Regions from separate parts of the Homo sapiens genome. Here region 2 is linked to region 1. The links come from fine-mapping of genetic effects on gene expression. A gene starts in region 1. The other region holds a variant in brackets. All regions are shown on one strand. Distances are from middle to middle.

Region 1 (8,677 bases):
AGGCTAGTGCAAGGGACAGGAGAGGGCGGCCCTGCTGGAAGCTCAGTGAGGAGCCCTGCGGTGGGGAGTGGTTGAAGCCGTTAAGTCCTCTGGTGACCTATGGGTGTGGAGGCTGGACCAGAGGGCCTTAAGGGGTAGCCCTGCAGGTCCCAACCCCATTCTTGGTGGAAGTGTTGGCTGAGGTCTCTGGAGTTGAGTGGGGTGGCAGAACTGGGCACTCTCATGACAGGAGAGGGGGGATGGGCAGGAGAGGTGTTCAGAAAAGGAGTGCAGGGAGGGCGGAAGAGCCGCTGTGTGAGTTTCCCCCAGCCCCTTGAGCAGCTGTGGGCCTCCTGCCCAGTCCCCATGCTGGGACCGAGAGGGCAAAGCGTGCAGAGAAGGCTGCACACCCTGCAGCCTCAGCCAGCGCGTGATAGGGGAGCTCTGGGCAGGGACAAAGCTGCAGTCCCTGTCCCTGAATGTCGGGGCGGGGGGGGGCGGGGATAGAAAGGAGAAAATGGGGCAGAGAGAAAAGAAAGCGGTGGCGTGCACATGCCCAGGCCCTTTGCTCCACTTTCCATGCTATATGAGACACTTCCCAAAATTCACACTCCCTGGGACCCTGAGGATGGGGGCTGTATCAGAGGAATTAATTCAGTCACAGGAGGACAGGAGTCCAGCTCTGACTCAGTCCCAGTGGAGCATCGTAGAAAACCGACAACCAGTGTCCAAGGAGCCCACTTTGGTGTCTGATGGGTCACCAGGAAGAGTTTATTAGATTCCTGAAAATCATAAGTAAGCATCCCTGCTTTGTGGAATTTCAGTTGGTGAGTGACAATGCCAAGTATGCAATTTGTCCTTCAACTTTTCATTTATGCCACACCGCGTGCTGGGCTCTCTGCAGGTGCTGGTGAAACAGACATGAAAAGGCACAACCCCTGCCTCGGGATCTGGTGGCAAGATCAACAGGTAAACTGCAGGTCTGATACGGATTGACAGGTGCCACTCAGAGTGAGTACGGGTGGCAGAAACTCAGAGGGGTCCGCCTGCCCAGTCTGGGATTGGGAAAGGCATCTGATTAGTTTCTCATGGCTGTTGTAACAGATTACCACTACCTTAGTGGCTTAAAACAACATAAATGTATTCTCTTATGACACTGAAGGTCGTTAAGTGTGAAATCAGTTTCCCTGGCTATAGGTGTCATCTGAGCTGGTCTTTTCCGGAGGCTCCAGGGGAGAATCGCTTCCTGGCCCTGTTCAGCTTTGGGAGGCTGCCTGCATCCTTGCCTGCAGCCCCCTTCTCCTTCTTCAAAATGCACCCCTGCAACCTCTGCACCCAACATCACACGGCCTTCCCTGCTGCACTCAAATGCCCGTCAGCCTCCCTCATTATGGACACTTGTGATGACATTTAAGGCCCATCTGGATAATCTAGGACACTCTTGCCATCTCCACATCCTTACCCACACCTGCAAAGTTCCTTTTGTCATAGAAGGTAGCATTCCTGAGTTCCAGGGATTGGGACATGGACATTTTGTGGTGGGCATTAGTTGGCCTGCACAGCTGCCTAGAGCAGACATCTCTGCAGCGGCAGGCCAGAAGAGTGAGGGTGCTCCTGGGTGAGGGCCTTGGTGGAGTGGCAAAGGCAGGGAGGGAGAAAGCCTGGCATAGTCAGGGAAGGACAGATGAGCAGGAAAGGCTGGCAGGGGCCAGATCTCATAGGGTCTTGAAATCTCAGCTTAGTCCTGAAGGAATTGCGTCTTGCACAAAACCTAAACATTGAGTGAAGGCTGTTGTCTCAGCCAGGGCCCTAACAGGACACAGATGACACACTAAGATGGGTAACTGAAGTGTGGGTTGATAAAGACGCTGTCTGCAAAGGGGTGGACGGGGTTAGGGAAGCCAGCAGAGCATGGAGCATGCCTGGGACTGACACAGCTGTGAGGTGCTACTGTCTCTTTGGGGAGCTGTGCCTACCCCTAGACCCGAAGAGAGGAGGCCAGGGAGTGGCTATCAGAACCCAGAGAGGGTGGCTGTGTGGAGAAGCACATATGAGTCTGCAGTAAAGGGACACAGCCTACCTGTGGTAACCTGGCAGGGAAGGACCGGGGGTAACAGATGTCCAAGTCCATTCTTCCTGCCCTGTGAGGGCCTGCCCATGCTCCCATTGGCCAAACCCCACTTGAAGCCAGAGAGCAAGAGTGATTGTCCCCATGGCATGGCTGGGTGGGCACAGCAGGGAGGAGGAAGATGGGGTGGGGACAGAGACACCCAGCGCAGGTGTCACATGGGGAGTAGCACCACCAGATCATTGTGGAGAAAGATCACACTGGCCGTGATGTGGAGGGTGGACCCGAGTGGGACAGAGGAGGAGGTGGGGAGGTCAGGGCATTCCAAGTGATTTAAAAAGCACATTAAAAAATGCATTTCCCTAGTTAGGGGTCCATTTACCCGAAGAGGTATCTGGGATTGTTCTGCTCCCAGCTGTGTCTGGTAGAGTGGAATTCGTCCCAAAGTTGCTGTTATATATCACACCAAATGTCTCCCTTGCAAAGGTGCAGCGCCAGTAGAAGGCCTCAGGCAGGCTTGGTTGCAAACAACAGAAACCACTTGTATTGAGTTTAAGCAGAAATGGGATTTATCACTGGCTACTTGGGGGCCCCAGCATCTTTTGAATGACCTGGGAACTGGGCTCTAGAATATGGCCCAAACGTGCCACCTACTGCAGAGCAGCTCCAGGAAACAACACGGCAGCCTGCCCTGAGTAGGGCAACTGCAAAGGGGCTTCCAATGTCGCCTCCCCGCCAGGGTGGAGCCCATGGGACCTTGCTTCGTCCTGGAGCCCCTGGCTCTGAATCTGAGTCTGGTGCAGGTACATCTGTATGGTGAGTTTGGTCACATGCCTGCACCCTCCTGTCTGAGAAATAGAGTTTCTGGCTCCTCTAGACAGTCAGGGACTGAGGAGGCAGGAGCTCCCCAAAGAAAAGATGTTTGAAGCACTGGACAAGAAGAAAGCGGGACGAATGTTCATTACAGGTAAATAAAGGTAAATTACTTTAAAGCTCAGACCGTCAGGTATCCCAAGGAGAGACGGCATGCGTGTGAGTGTCATGTGTGTGAGTATCATGCATGTGAGTGGTTCCATCCTTAGGAAGAAAAACATGGGAGGAACCTGCAGTGTGCAGCCTCTGTCCAGACCCACCTGCTGAGGGGCCCAGGCACCCCAAAGTATACCCTAAATATGATCAGATCCAGGGAGCATTGTGACTGAGTTTTCAGGTTAGCCTCTGTGCAACCTGACTTCCCATGGGCAGGGTGGAGTGCTGGGAGCATTGATTCAATTCTTCCCTTGAGCACTCTTCACCCCCATCTCTCTCCAGAAATGTACCGAGAGTCTAACTGCTCTATACTCTGGGAGGAACACGAACATGATTCCACCTCAGTTCCAAGCTTTCTGAGAACCATCCTGGGAACCAGCAAGCATGACAACTCTCCACCTTCTGCATCAGTCACTTGCAAGGAGGCCAGTGGGCACAGTTCATGCTACTGAGTGAGATGGCGCCCAGAGGCCAAGGCCAAGGGCAGGGCTGCATTTTCTGGTTCTTTTATATTTGTAGCAAGATACTCTTAGTGGAAGAGCCCAATATCTGGGCTTGCCTAAAAGTCTCCTTAGCTAGATCATTCAATTTATGAGCTTTCCATCTTGTTGCAGTGTTGCTTAATTTCTGCCTCTCCATAACAAGAATCACCTTTCTTCCAGTCTCTAATGCATTGTTCTCACTTTCCTATAAACCCTCACCAACATTCTCCTCCCACTACTGGCTTCTCCAGTGCCCTTTAGGCTTTCTCTGACACTTTCTTCAAAGTCCTTTCAGCTTCTGCCCTCTGCTCAGTTCCAAAGACGCTCCCACATTGGTAGGTTTATGTTCCATCAGCACCCCACTTCTGGTACTAAGCTTTATATCAGCTATCTACTGTTAGGCAACAGCCAAAACTTAGTGACTTAAAACAGACACAAACATATATTATCTTTCACAGTCTCTGTGAGTCGGGAATTCAGGAACAGCTTAGCTGGGTGTTCTGGCTCCAGGTCTCTCATGAGGTTGCAGTCTAGATATGAGCTGGGACAGTGGTCATCTGAAGGCTGGAATGAGGCTGGAGGATCCACTTCCAAGGTGGCTGACTCAGATGGTTGGCAAGTTGGTGCCGGCTGCGGCAAAGGCCTTGTTTTCTCTCCAGGTGGACCTCTCCACAAGGCTACTTGAGCAGCCTCACAACATGGTAGCTGCTTCCCCAGGGCAAGTGATCCAAGAGCAAAGGTTGAAGTCACAATGCCCTTATGACTTAGCCTTGGATGTGACACACCATCACTTCTGCAGTATTCTACTGGTAACACTGACCAGCTCTGATTCAGTTTGAGAAAAGAGGACACAAAAGCATGAATAACAGGAGGTAAGTTTCACTGAGGGCCTGTGGATCATCTGGGAGCTGTCTACCACCAATAGTCAAAAGAAAAAATTAGGTATAAATATATGCATACGTGTGTGTATATATATATGTATGTATAATTTTAAAAATATATATTTATTATAAAAGTAATTAATATTATTTGTAGAAATTTAAAAAAAATTTAGAGTAGCAAAAATAAGACAGTAAAGATTACCCCATAATAGCTCCATGCAGAGAAAAATCATTATCAACATTTTGGGGTATATCTTATCAGCCTGAACTTTAAACATTTTTACAAAAATGGAATAATACTGGACAAAATCTTTCATGCTATCAATTTTTTCATTTACTAGTACAGTCAAAAACACAGTTTTATTGCATCTTTTTTCATGGTAACATTATATTCCTGCCAGTGATTAAGATGTAATTGATTTTTCCAATGCGCTATTACTGGACATGTAAAGGTTCTCAAATTGTTACATCATTAACAAAACTGGAATGACCATCTTCAGAGCTAACTTGCTGTCTTTATCCCTGATCTTTCCTTAGGATGGATATAGAATACCAGCATCAGCAAGTGTACACGATTTAAAGCACATTTGGTATCTATTACCAAGCTGCCCTTCAGAGAGGTTGTCTCGTTACACATTCCACAGCTGTGACTGAGAAACCGTCTTGTCGCATTTGACAATCCAGGTTACTATCTAAAAACTTGAGTTTGTAAGAGCAACACGCCATGAGATAATATTCGTGCAAATGTAACTGACAAAAGACTAACATCCCATAATACTAGAGCACCTACAAACCAAGAAGATAAACATCCCATTGGGAAAGTGTAAAAATATGAACATAAAGTTTACAGAAGAAAAAACACAAATGGCTCATAAACACACAAAAAGATGATATTGCTTCCTGGTAATTGGGGAAATGCAAACAAAAACTACAATGAAATATCGTGGTATCGTGTATCAAATTTGCAGAGCATAAAATAGATTACATTCGCAACCAGCAACTACAACCCAACCTTCAGCCTCACTGGACTTCTTGCCATTCCCCAAACCATATCCACGCCCCTCTCCACAGGCTGTTCCTTCTGCCTGCATGCCCTCGATGGCACCAAGGGGGATGGGCACACTAACACAACTGCTGGGAATGGGAAAGTTTCAACCTCTTGGGAATAAAATCTAACAGTATTTATTGGAATGTAACCTGTGCATACTCCACAGCTGGGCCACTACCCTGCAAGAACCCCTCTGGCTGCTGCACAAAGCTCTTCTCTGCATCCTTTTTTATACTAGTGGAACCCTGGACACAGCCTGCATATGGATCAAAAGGGCAGTGGTTATAAATATACTATGGTCCATCTCTAGGCTAGACTGTGATGCAGTGGTTAAAGCCAAGTATTGCAGAAGAGTGATTAAGCATTCGTGCTCCAAAGCCAGATAGCCTAGGTTTCAATCCCAGCTTTGCCACTTACTTGCTGTGTGATCTTGTGCAACTCACTTAGCCTTTCTGTGTCACAGTTTCTCCATCTGTATAACGGACGATAACACTAGCCCCTACCTCATAGGGTCATTGTGAAGAGTAAATGAAATTAATATTGCCTATGTCACAGAGTGATCCTCCTCAAAATCTATTAGATGAAAAAAGAAATTTCTAGAAATTATCTACATACATATTCTGATGGGATTTGTGTAAAGAATTTAACCAACAAACCCATATTACACACACATACACACACACTCACACAGACACACTCACACACACACACACGCACTCACGTGCGTAGAAGTAGATCTAGGAAGATCCATGACACACATGCGAGGCAGGTGAATGGGGACATTAAAAGGAGGACTTCCACGTTTAATTCTGAATGGTCTATTTTATTTGTGCAATTTTTAAAAATCAAAGCAATAAATCACTGTAAAAGAAACCTGCCAGGTTTTGAGTCTTACCATTCTACCCCGGGCTCACCCTTCTCTCTCATTGAATCTCAGGTGTCTTCGGGATCATTTAGTTTAGAAGAGGAAGAAATGTCCCTGGACCCCACCAGTTGAACACTAATGCTCCTTTGGGGATTGCGCCCTCACTGTCTCTCTAAGCATCTGTGGATTGGGGTCTTGTCCCTGCGGGCTCCTCCCGCCTACTCAGAGTGCGCCCTCTGGTGGTGATAACTTGCAGTACTGCGCGCCCACAGCACGTGTGGGGAAGGCGAAAAGCTTTGCTGATTCTCCCAGGGGCCTCAGCCCAGGAGCCCTGGGCTTTGACTCTGGGTCTAGTGCTAGTGGTGGTACCAGATCTCTGTCCCTTGTCGAGGAAGGACACTCTCTATTTGTTTTTAAGTTGTCTCTATCTAGGATTGTCAGATTTAGCAACTAAAAACACAGGATGCCTGGTTAAATTTGAATTTTAGAGAAATCACAAATAACTTTTAGTATGAGTATGTTGCATGACATCTACTAATTTTACACAACTCATACTTATATTAAACAAAATTATTTGTGGTTTCTCTCAGGCTTAAATTCCACTGGGCGCCTGTGTCTTATCTTGTGACTGTGGGAGGAGATCTGTTGGGAAGCGGGTAGGGGAGGTGGTGAGAAAGGAAGGGAGAAGGCCTGGGTATGGTGTGTGATGGAAGGGCACGATGGTTCAGGCGAGTCTTTGGTTGCAGGAGACTGTAAATGGCATCTGCTCTCCAGGCAGCTGGAGCTGTCAGGCTGTAGAACAATGCTGCTCAGCCCTGGGAGCTTTGAAAACCTGACGTGTGGGTCTGATTCCCACAGATTCTGATGTCATTGGTTTGGTGGCATTGGGGTGAGGGTAGGCTCTGGCATTTTTTAAAGCCCCAGGCAATTCAAATGTGCAGCCAAGGTTGAGGACCACTACTCTAGGGGATCTGCAGTGTGTGCATGTGTGCGTGTGAGTGTGCATGTGCGTGTGTGCGCATGTGCGTGTGTGCACCCACTCGTGTATCCCAGATGCCTTCAGCTTGCATATTCCCAAGTTCACCAGTCTGGGGTCCTTCCCGAGAGCCTCCCAGTCCACATGTTATGGAAAAGCCTTGGGCCCTTTCCAAGATGTTTCTAGATTCCCCCAGGGCTTATATTTTACTGGTCATCCCTGGCTCTGATTTCCTGTTCACACTGAGCACTCCCATCTCATTCCTTTCTTCCCCCGGGACTGTGTTTTCTTTCTGCCTGTCAACTTAATGCTGGTCTTTCAATGACCACCAGCAGCTCACAGCTGTCAAGTTTAGCAGATGTTTCCTGCAGGTCTGCAGTTAACAAGAGGTGTCATCCCCAAAGTAAATGATTCTACACTGAAGTCCCCATCTGGGCGGGGAACTCCTGCTAGGAGGAATTTATCACTGGCCATTTCCTCCTCCAATTCCCTCTGCCTCATTTTTACTTCTAGGCCCTCTCATTCTCTTTCAGAAATCACTTTGTCCCCTCCCAAAAAAACAAAGAAACAAAAACAGAAACAAACCCTTCTTCCTCTAGCAGTCAGCATGCAGCTGCTGATCAAGTTCCAAATTGCAGTTCCTTTCTTAATCAGAACAACTCAACTCATTTTTCCTATACCTCTCCTATGTGTCCAGGTATTTCCGAGAGTGATGCATGCTCCTTGGGAAGCATTGGGAATTCTGCACTTCTGGGCCAGCCAGCTCCAACTGCAGCCAATGTTTAAAAAATAGCATCTCTCCCTTCCTTCTATATGTACAGATCTTCAGGGATTTAGCAAATTCTCTTAAATAGCTAGAAGACCTTGCTGACTTCGATGCAAATATTCTGGCCAGAGAACTGAGGTCCTTGGATGAAACCCAATAATCAGAGGGGTCACAGTTTCCTTAGCCCAGGAGGAAGGCAGCTGGTGTCTCAGCAGATGTTCCTAAAGGCCTGGCTTTTTCCACATCTGTTCTGTGTGGTAGACAAGGAGAAGAGGAAGGGAGGAAGGGAACAGAGAGGAAGCAGAGAGAGCTGAAGATTAAAACAATACTGTACAGGTCCCCGCTAAAGATGGACTCTCTGGCTGCCAGGAAAGGACTGAGAGATAAATAGGAGGAGCATAAGAACCTGGGAGCTGGAGGCTGGTCCACCTCCCTCAGCTTCCAGGACCCAGAGGGAGGCAGGCACAGCCAGCCTTGGCCCTGTGGAACCAACACCTTCCAGCCAGGCTGCCAGGAAGCCAAATTCCAAATGTCTAAACTGTATTTTGCACTTTTCCACAAGGTGACCTGCAGCTGCTCTGAT
Region 2 (8,677 bases), 54 kb after region 1:
GTTGGCCCTCGCTATTTAACTGAGCCTTCACTCACTCACTCATTCATACAAATACTTATCTAATGCCTTCCACGTGCTACCCTGTGCTAGGGGGTAGGGCAAGAAGAGTAAGTAAAAGGTAGCACAGTTTCAGTACTTGGAGCTTAGCCAGCAAGCAAGCAACAAACAAAAAAGCAAACATGCAAAATCAAGATCAAAATCATTTTGGGTGCAGATAAGTTGATGATCAGAGGAGGCCTCTCTTGGGAGGTGACATTTGAGCTAAGACCTAAATAACAAGAAGGAGCTGGGTACACTTAGACCTACAAGGCAGGAAGAGGGTCCCAAGGTAGGGAACAATAGCAAAGGCTTGGAGATGGGAACAAGCCTGGCCTGACCGAGGGGCAGCGGGGACGAGGATGGCTGCAGGGGGAGGCCTTGCGGGAGTTCAGGTTGCATTCTAAGAATTCTGGGGAGCCACTGGAGAGGTTATTTCACAGTGTTGGGAACAGGAAAAGCAGGAAGTCGGCCTGGAGGATTGGGGCTGGAGCCCAGAATGTGTGCTGGGTGTCACTGGCTCTCACCAACCTCTCCTTGGAGGCTGGATCTGGCCCCCTCTTTGCCTTGCACATGCTGCAACTCTGCATGACAGGGCAGGTCTTGCAGAACAGTGATGCAGCAATACCTAACTCAGCATTATTATGTGTGGCCCACCTTCTCAGAAGTGCATGTCTCCCCCAACCTCAGGGTTACCCCTGCATGGAGGAGTAGACCCCCTGCTGCTCCCCACACACCTGCCCTGGCATGGAGCACATGCTGCTATAGCAGCCAGGGACCTACTGGAGTCAGAGATGCTCTTCCCAGGCTTGGCCTGATGGGGGCAGTATCAGGAGAGCTCCATGGTGGGCCGGTCCTCCATCCCCCCAGGCTGAGTCCACCCTCTCAGCCAAGATGCCCCTGGTCCAAGCTGTGCCATAGGCCCTGCAGCCACCCTAGGGGTGGAATCTGGAGTCCTAAGACTGTGATAGCATGACCAGCCAGTTCACAAAGCACTGCACCCTTGGGGTCAGACAGCCAAGAGCTCCCTGTGTTATGGAGCTTGAGATTCTCCCCATTGAAAGGGAGCTAAGAAGTTAAGAGGCATTGAATCCAGCCTCATACATTCACTCAGTAAATGTTTGTCAAGCTTCTATGATGTGCCATACATTATATCAGCACAGGGTTATATACTAAAGATGGAGGACTCTGTGGCGCCCAAAGCAGAAATGATTCTGGCCCTCATGGACATCTGTATTTCTAGGGGGGTGAACAGACACAGAACAAATCAACCTACAAATACATAATTCTAAACCATGACAAGTGACAGAAAAGACAGAAACAAAGCATGGGGCTTATGTTCCAGATCCAGGAGTGGCCAAACTGGATCCGACGGTACAGAGATGAATGGCTCAGCTAAGATCAGAATCATAAAACACCATTTTGAAGGGCACTGATGCATTCCCAGAATGCCTGTATCATATATGAAATTCATTATTAACAATAACTGCCAAAATAAATCAATATGAAAACGATGTTGTGGAGAAAGTCTGTCTGGCTAGTATTGAGACTCGTTGGCGAATCTTGACATAACGAAAGTTGTTAAATGTAGTGGTCTGTTTACTGTGTTTGTAAACACAAAAATGAGAACAGATGACATGTTTGTGGAGCTTCTTCTGTGTCAGGCACTGTGGTGGGCACTGGGGGCCCAAGGATAAGCACCCTGCTTGTTTGGCATTGCCTGGAAGTAAAGCACTCCCACCCACACACCGGAAGCCCCTCACAGTGACTGCCTGCACTGTGCCAAGTGAGGGATGGCTGGGCTGCACATTCCTGGGCTGTCTGTTTTGTTTTGCTTCAAGATTTGACCTTGTCGCCAGATTTCTGTCAAGATTAACCTGGCAGAGTTTCTGATGTAGTTCATTCTACAGCGAGTTAGGCTTCCGCATTTGATGAAGTCAATATACCTGCATCATGGTGAGGCAGGCACAGAAGAGGAGGTTTGCGTGGCAGAACAATCCCTTTTTAGATTAGGAAACATAGAATTCATGTTGGAGAAAAGAGTGCTATTTCTGTCTCCAATCCGATTTTGTACCCACTTTCAGTTTTAAGCTGTGCCCCATTCCAGAGCAAAATCCTCCTCTCCTTCCTCTCCTCCTCTCCCCCACTGCCCCCTTCTTTTTCTCCTCAAGTCCTCCCTCCTCCCTCCCTTCATCTCCTACCCCCCTCCTCCTCCTCATCTCCTACCCCCCTTCTCCTCCTCATCTCCTACCCCCCTCCTCCTCCTCATCTCCTACCCCCCTTCTCCTCCTCATCTCCTACCCCCCTTCTCCTCCTCATATCCTACCCCCCTTCTCCTCCTCATCTCCTACCCCCCTCCTCCTCCTCATCTCCTATCCCCCTCCTCCTCATCTCCTACCCCCTCCTCCTCATCTCCTACCCCCCTCCTCCTCATCTCCTACCCCCTCCTCCTCATCTCCTACCCCCCTCCTCCTTATCTCCTCCTTCTTCCTCTTCCATCTCACGATCTCTTCCCCATCTTCCTCCTCCCCTCTCCTCCTCCCAGTCCTCATCTTCTCCACTCTCTTCCTCATCCCTCACCGCAACTCTTCCCTCCTCCTATTCTTCTTCCTCCCCTTCCTCCCACCTCATCTTCCTCTTCATTCCTTCTCTCTCCTTCCTCCCTCTCTTTCTCTCTGCCTTCTCCTCCTTTTAAAATCAATCCAGATTTACTTGGCTTTTGATTTGTGATTTAGTAGTGATCAGGAGATTTGATGTTAAAGGAAAATCGGATAAGCCCAGAGCCACTGACCTAATTGATAGGAGTTGCCATTGCCTCTGTTTTTCTGTATAAAATGGGAACAGTTTTTTGTACAATACAAGTACAATACAATACAAGTATTTATTTGGGCCCATATCTATTTTCACTAGTCTTCTGAGTTCTGTGAGGAACAAGAAAGGAATGAGTAGGACAATGTCCTCCCTCTTAGCAACTTCCTATCTCAATGGAGACCGCCTATCGAATGGGAATTTTCTACCCCAAGACACCTGAGACAGACCACAGTACACGCTGTGAGTGATTGAAGCACAGGCTCTAAATGCTGGCAGAGATCAGGCTCAGTATGGGCTGGAGGGAGGCTCCACAGACAATGTTCATCTTTTTTTTTTTTTTTTTTTTTGAGACAGAGTCTCACTCTGTCGCCCAGGCTGGAGTGCAGTGGCGTGATCTCAGCTCACTGCAACCTCTGCCTCTCGGGTTCAAGAGATTCTCCTGCCTCAGCCTCCCAAGTAGCTGGGATTACAGGCGCCTGACACCACGCCTAGCTAATTTTTGTATTTTTAGTCGAGATGGGGTTTCACCATGTTGGCCAGGCTGGTCTCGAACTCCTGATCTTGTGATCTGCCTGCCTCGGCCTTCCAGAGTGTTGGGATTACAGGCATGAGCCACCGCACCCAGCCTGACAATGTTCATCTTTAACAAAGTTCTGAAATTTGGGAAGATCTAGAATTGGAGGGCTAGGTACTTCTAATTCTGATGAAGGGAGAACAGTCATGATCATAGTACCAAACTCTCTCCCCTAATTCCCTGTTCCCATGGGGAAGGGACCAGCCTTTTCATGTCCTGCTCTTCTTCCCCTTTATTGCAGTCCCCTACCCTGAGCTGGTTTTGGTATCGGCCCTTTCTTCTTCCCTTTCCTCTCAATCTTGCTCATTATGTGGGACCTCAGCACTCCAGGGAGAAGCAAATGTCCTAGGCACAACAGCAAAACAGTGCATGTGGCAGAAGGCCATGGATGCTGACCTGAGCCTGGATCCCCGCTCCGCTCAAGATTCGTGGACTTAGGAGATTCAATCGACTTAGGAGATTCAATCGACAAGTTGAGCGAGGCGTCCAAGTTTGCTCCTGAAAATTGGGGGTGATAATCCTACTTCACAGGACTGCTGTTAGGATTCAACAAGGCAATGCCTGGGTAAGCAGTAAGGTGCAGATAGAGATGCTCCCAAAATATTAGCTCTAACTTTTTCTCAGCTCTTTTCAGCTAAGCACGATGGCAAATAAAACCTTCAGGGGACACAGAAGATGAAAGAATTCACACTCTGGAATCTGTTCACCGTGGGCTTGGTCTCTGTTTCTGGTTCCAGAAGAGGTATATTATGAACAAGTGAACTGTCCTCTCTGAGCTGCAGTCTCCTCATCTGTAAAACAAATATCCAGAGCCCCCCCTCCACGGAGGGCTGTGCTCAGCATGAAACTAGCAATGCATGTGAAATGTTGAACCCATTGGTGGCGTGTAGAAGGTGCTGGCATCACTGCC[G/A]TGGTGACCTTGGCTTAGTCAAGGTCACAGATATGGTGCCCCTTGGTGGCATCAGTATAGGGCTAGAGCTTTGTACCAACCTTAGAAAGATGATGAAACATGTTGGAAACGCTGAATCATCTCTACCAAGTCTTTACATGAAGTTTGCCGTCAAGGTATCTGCAGGCCAGGAAGCGTGTTTGGAAACAGGAGCTGGGCGCCTCCATGGGATTGATCTTCTTGAATTGCCCTTTGGAGGCCACTCACCACATCCGGTCCTCCCTAGAATCCACACACTGCCAAGAGCTCATCGCGGATCAAGAGCATAGTAACCAAACCCGGGGCAGCTGGCATTCTGGGGTGCTTTGTTCGCTAACCTTAAAAGCAAACCCAGCAACCCAGCACACTGGCAACAACCCATCAGCCTGCTTCAGGCAGGTCAGAGCCTGGGGACAGAGGAGCTTTCCTCGTCTGCTTATTAGAGTGACAGCCATGGAGATAAAAGTTTAATGTGCCGATTATCTTTCTGTTTTCGGGTGCCCGGCAGGACTGAATGGGCTACCTCATCCAAGCAGCCCATGGAGGGTGGGTGTGTGAAGTTGAAAACGGAAGGATACTCAGCTGATAGGATGGCAACACCGCTGCATTCTTGATCAGGGCTCCATGTGCCCTGAGCTGTCCCCAGAACCTGGCTATAGGGCCTGGTTCAGGCATTTCCACATTTCTCAGGTCCGGAGGGTTCGTTAGGGACACAACAGAGGGACCCGACTAAAATAAGCCCCCAGGAATAGAACTATTTGCAGGCATGACTGGGTGCTGTGGCTCACACCTGTGATCCTAACACTTCGGGAGGCCGAGGCAGGCAAATCACTTGAGCTCAGGAGTTCAAGACCAGCCTGGGCTGGGCAACATGGCAAAGTCCCTTCTCTACCCAAAATACAAAAACTTACTCAGCTGTGGTGGCACGCGTCTGTGGTCCTAGCTACTTGGGAGGCTGAGGTAGAAGGATGGCTTGAGCCTGGTAGGTGGAGGCTGCAGTGAGCTATGATCGAGCCACTGCATTCCAGCCTGGGTGGAAGAACAAAAGCAAAAACAAACACAAAAAAAACCAAGAACTATTTGCAGGCAAACCAAAGGAACATACATCTGAATATATTTTCATGCTTCTTCACAGGCTTGAAATGAATGGTGCTAACAGAGCCTGCCCTTATTACGAGAAAGTGTGCTGTGAAACTGATGTGGGGCAGGAACAGGCTCGTCCTCCCCTGGTGATATTTAACAACAATAATTATTGTGATAATAACAAAAGTGACTCACATTGATTGGGCACTCAGTATGTGTCAGGCGGTTTTCTCAGCACACACCTTAGTGCATTCAATCATCACCACAAGCCCATGAGGTAGGGTGCTAGTATCCCCATTTTACAGAGGGGAACACCGAGGCTCAAAAAGCAAGAATAAGAACCAAGAGATAATATTCTTAGATTCATGTGGGCCCAGCCATCATAGAGCCTGTAGTCTGGTGCACAGACCTTGATGCATGACATCAGTGCAGAAAAGCAATGCTGAGGAAAGGGATTGTGGGGAGAGGATTGGAAAGGAGGGATGTGTAAGCCTGGAAAGATAGGTTGGATTCAAGCAGTAAATCAAGATGGAAGGAGAAAGGAGGAAGGGACTCCTGGTGGAGGTCATAGCTCTGGGTAAGAGGAAAGAATTCCAGTGTATCTAAACTGGGAATTCACAGCAGGTGGGGCTAGAAAGGGGAGGTGGAGTTGCATTGGGAAGCCTTGAATGCCAAGTCGGGGGAACTAGGCTTGATTTGGTCAACATCAGGGGACAGCTAAAGTTTGGAGCAGTGGTGGCCCAGGAGGCTGCTCTTCCTCTTGGCTTCCTCTAGGGAAGTAAGCAAACAGAACAAAAGTGGGCTTTGGAGTAAGCCAATTCTGATTTTAATCTTGATTTTCCTCATGGATTTGCTCTGTGTCCCTAAGGAAGTTTCCTAACTTCTCTGAACAAAGACAATAATTGTATGCATTTCATAGGTTTTTGGAGGTAAATATAATGTATGCAAAGTGTGAGGTTATGTAATAGGTATTCCATGATGGCGGCCAATATTCTTCTTTATTAATCATATGGGCAGGGTGAGGTGACTCACACCTGTAATCTCAGCATTTTGGGAGGCCAAAGGGGACAGATCACTTGAAGTCAGTTGTTCAAGACCAACCTGGCCAACATGATGAAACCTCATCTTTACTATAAATATGAAAATTAGCTAGGCATGGTGGCGTGCGCCTGTAATCCCAGCTACTCAGGAGGCTGAGGCAGGAGAATCGCTTGAACCTGGGAGACAGAGGTTGCAGTGAGCAGAGATCACGCCACTGCACTCCAGCCTGGGCGACAGAATGAGACTCCATCTCAAAAGAAAAAAAAAATCATATGAACTGTCCTGTTTATTTTCATTTTTTTGGTGCCTTGCCTTCCTAGGACCTGTCCTTCTGAAACCAGAAATATAAAGATCCACTTTCTTTCTGCATGAACTCCTACTCAATCCTCAAGACCCATTTTAAAAATTCACTGTGAAACCTTTGCTAACTTCCGCATTGGAAAACAAATCACTCTATCTGCCATGGCTCCAACTGGCCCTCATCACATGACATGGTAATTACGTCTGTTTATGGTCTCTCTTCTCAGCCAGATTGGGAGTTTCTGGAGGTGCAGAGACTGCTACACTCCCCTCACTTAAATGGTTCTCCTACTGTGGTCTGCAGAACCGTGGAGGACCTCCTAAACCCTTTCAGAGGGCCTCACAGTGAAAACTATTTTCGGGGCTGGGTGCAGTGGCTCAAGCCTGTAATCCCAGCACTTTGGGAGGCCGAGGCGGGCAGATCACGAGGTCAGGATCGAGACCATCCTGGCTAACACGGTGAAACCCCGTCTCTACTAAAAATACAAAAAAATTAGCCGGGCATGGTGGCGGGCGCCTGTAGTCCCAGCTACTGGGGAGGCTGAGGCAGGAGAATGGTGTGAACCCGGGAGGTGGAGCTTGCAGTGAGCTGAGATCGCGCCACTGCACTCCAGCTCGGATGACAGAGCTAGACTCTGTCTCAAAAAAAAAAAAAAAAAAAAAAAAAAGAAGAAGAAGAAAAGAAAACTATTTTCATAATAACTCCGGGATATTATTTCTTTTTTCATTGTGTTGTCATTTACACCTGCGGTGGTAAAACTGCTTACACCTTAGTATGAATCAAGGGAGTGGCCCCGAAGTGTACAGGTACTCATTGTATTCTTCTTATCACCTACTTGCATTAAAACACATGCCAGTTTCACTTAGAAATACTCTTAATGAAGCAGTAAAATTTGTTTTTTTGTTGTTGTTGTTGATTTTTTGTTTTTTTTTTTGAGATGGAGTCTCACTCTGTCGCCCAGGCTTGACTGTGGAGTGGCCAATCTCGGCTCACGGCAACCTCTGCTTCCCGGGTTCAAGTGATTCTCATGCCTCAGCCTCCTGAGTAGTTGGGACTACAGGCATGTGCCACCCATGCCCAGCTAATTTTTTTTTTTTTTGTATTTTTAGTAGAGACAGGGTTTCACCATGTTGGCCAGGCTGGTCTTGAACTCCTGACCTCAAGTGATCCACATGCCTCGGCCTCCCAAATGAAGCAGTAAAATTATTAATTAAAAAATTCTCAACCCTTGAATGCATGTCTTTTTAATAATCTGTGTGAAAAAATGGAAAGTATGCATAAAGCACTTCTCACTCCGGCTGCCTACCAAAGCACAATGGTTGAAGGTAATGACAAGGAGAAGCACATGTGATTGTTTGAGCTGAAATAGCCACTTTTTTCATGGAACACTCATTTTACTTGAAAGAATTCACACACACACACACACACACACACACACACACACAGACAGCACAACCCATGGTTATTTAGATAGGTTTTCTGGCAGATGTTTTCCCAAAAAGTAACAAAATGAGGCTGGCACTTCAAAGAAAGCAATTAACAGTACTTGTTGCCAATGATAAAATTCAAGCTAAGTGAAAATTAGAAGTTTGGAAAATTTTATCTGCAACTATGAGGGTGGCAACTTCCCATTACGCTTCTCCCATGAGATCTGTGGTGATATGGAGGCATATGGTTTTTGATACTGTATAATGAAATGTGTCAATATTTGAAAGATCTGCGGGGGAGGCAGCGAAGCAATAGTTTCCAAATGAATAAAATACGTGATGTTATCAAATCGTGCATGGGTAAAAGACCCATTCAAAGGGCAAGCCAGACCACTGCATCTTAAAGTGACGGAGTAGAAAGAGTTCATTCACATGATTTCAGATTTTACATTGCAACATCGCTTACCCACTTGTCA

Direction of the effects. Alleles are on the strand shown, and positions count from the first base shown. SD is a standard deviation of normalised expression in the study named.
As copies of A replace G in region 2, the expression in subcutaneous fat of the gene that starts at base 4,382 in region 1 goes up (large effect, 0.82 SD a copy in TwinsUK).

Evidence for each region. PIP is the estimated chance that this variant, and not a neighbour inherited with it, causes the effect.
Region 2: its variant is the best candidate, but not a certain one, in a credible set for the expression of LINC02995 in subcutaneous fat (TwinsUK, PIP 0.82).

What each region holds. Positions count from the first base shown.
Region 1 is chr5:173,575,253-173,583,929 of GRCh38, forward strand. LINC02995 (long intergenic non-protein coding RNA 2995) reads left to right here and starts at 4,382. Exons shown (of 4, transcript NR_027108.2): 1 at 4,382-4,430; 2 at 4,977-5,123; 3 at 8,026-8,656.
Region 2 is chr5:173,629,040-173,637,716 of GRCh38, forward strand. No RefSeq gene overlaps it. Among named protein-coding and RNA genes, the nearest start is that of LINC01863, 9.0 kb to the right of the region's middle. RefSeq lists enhancers at 1-43, 3,892-5,091. The variant G/A (reference allele first, on the strand shown) is at 4,332.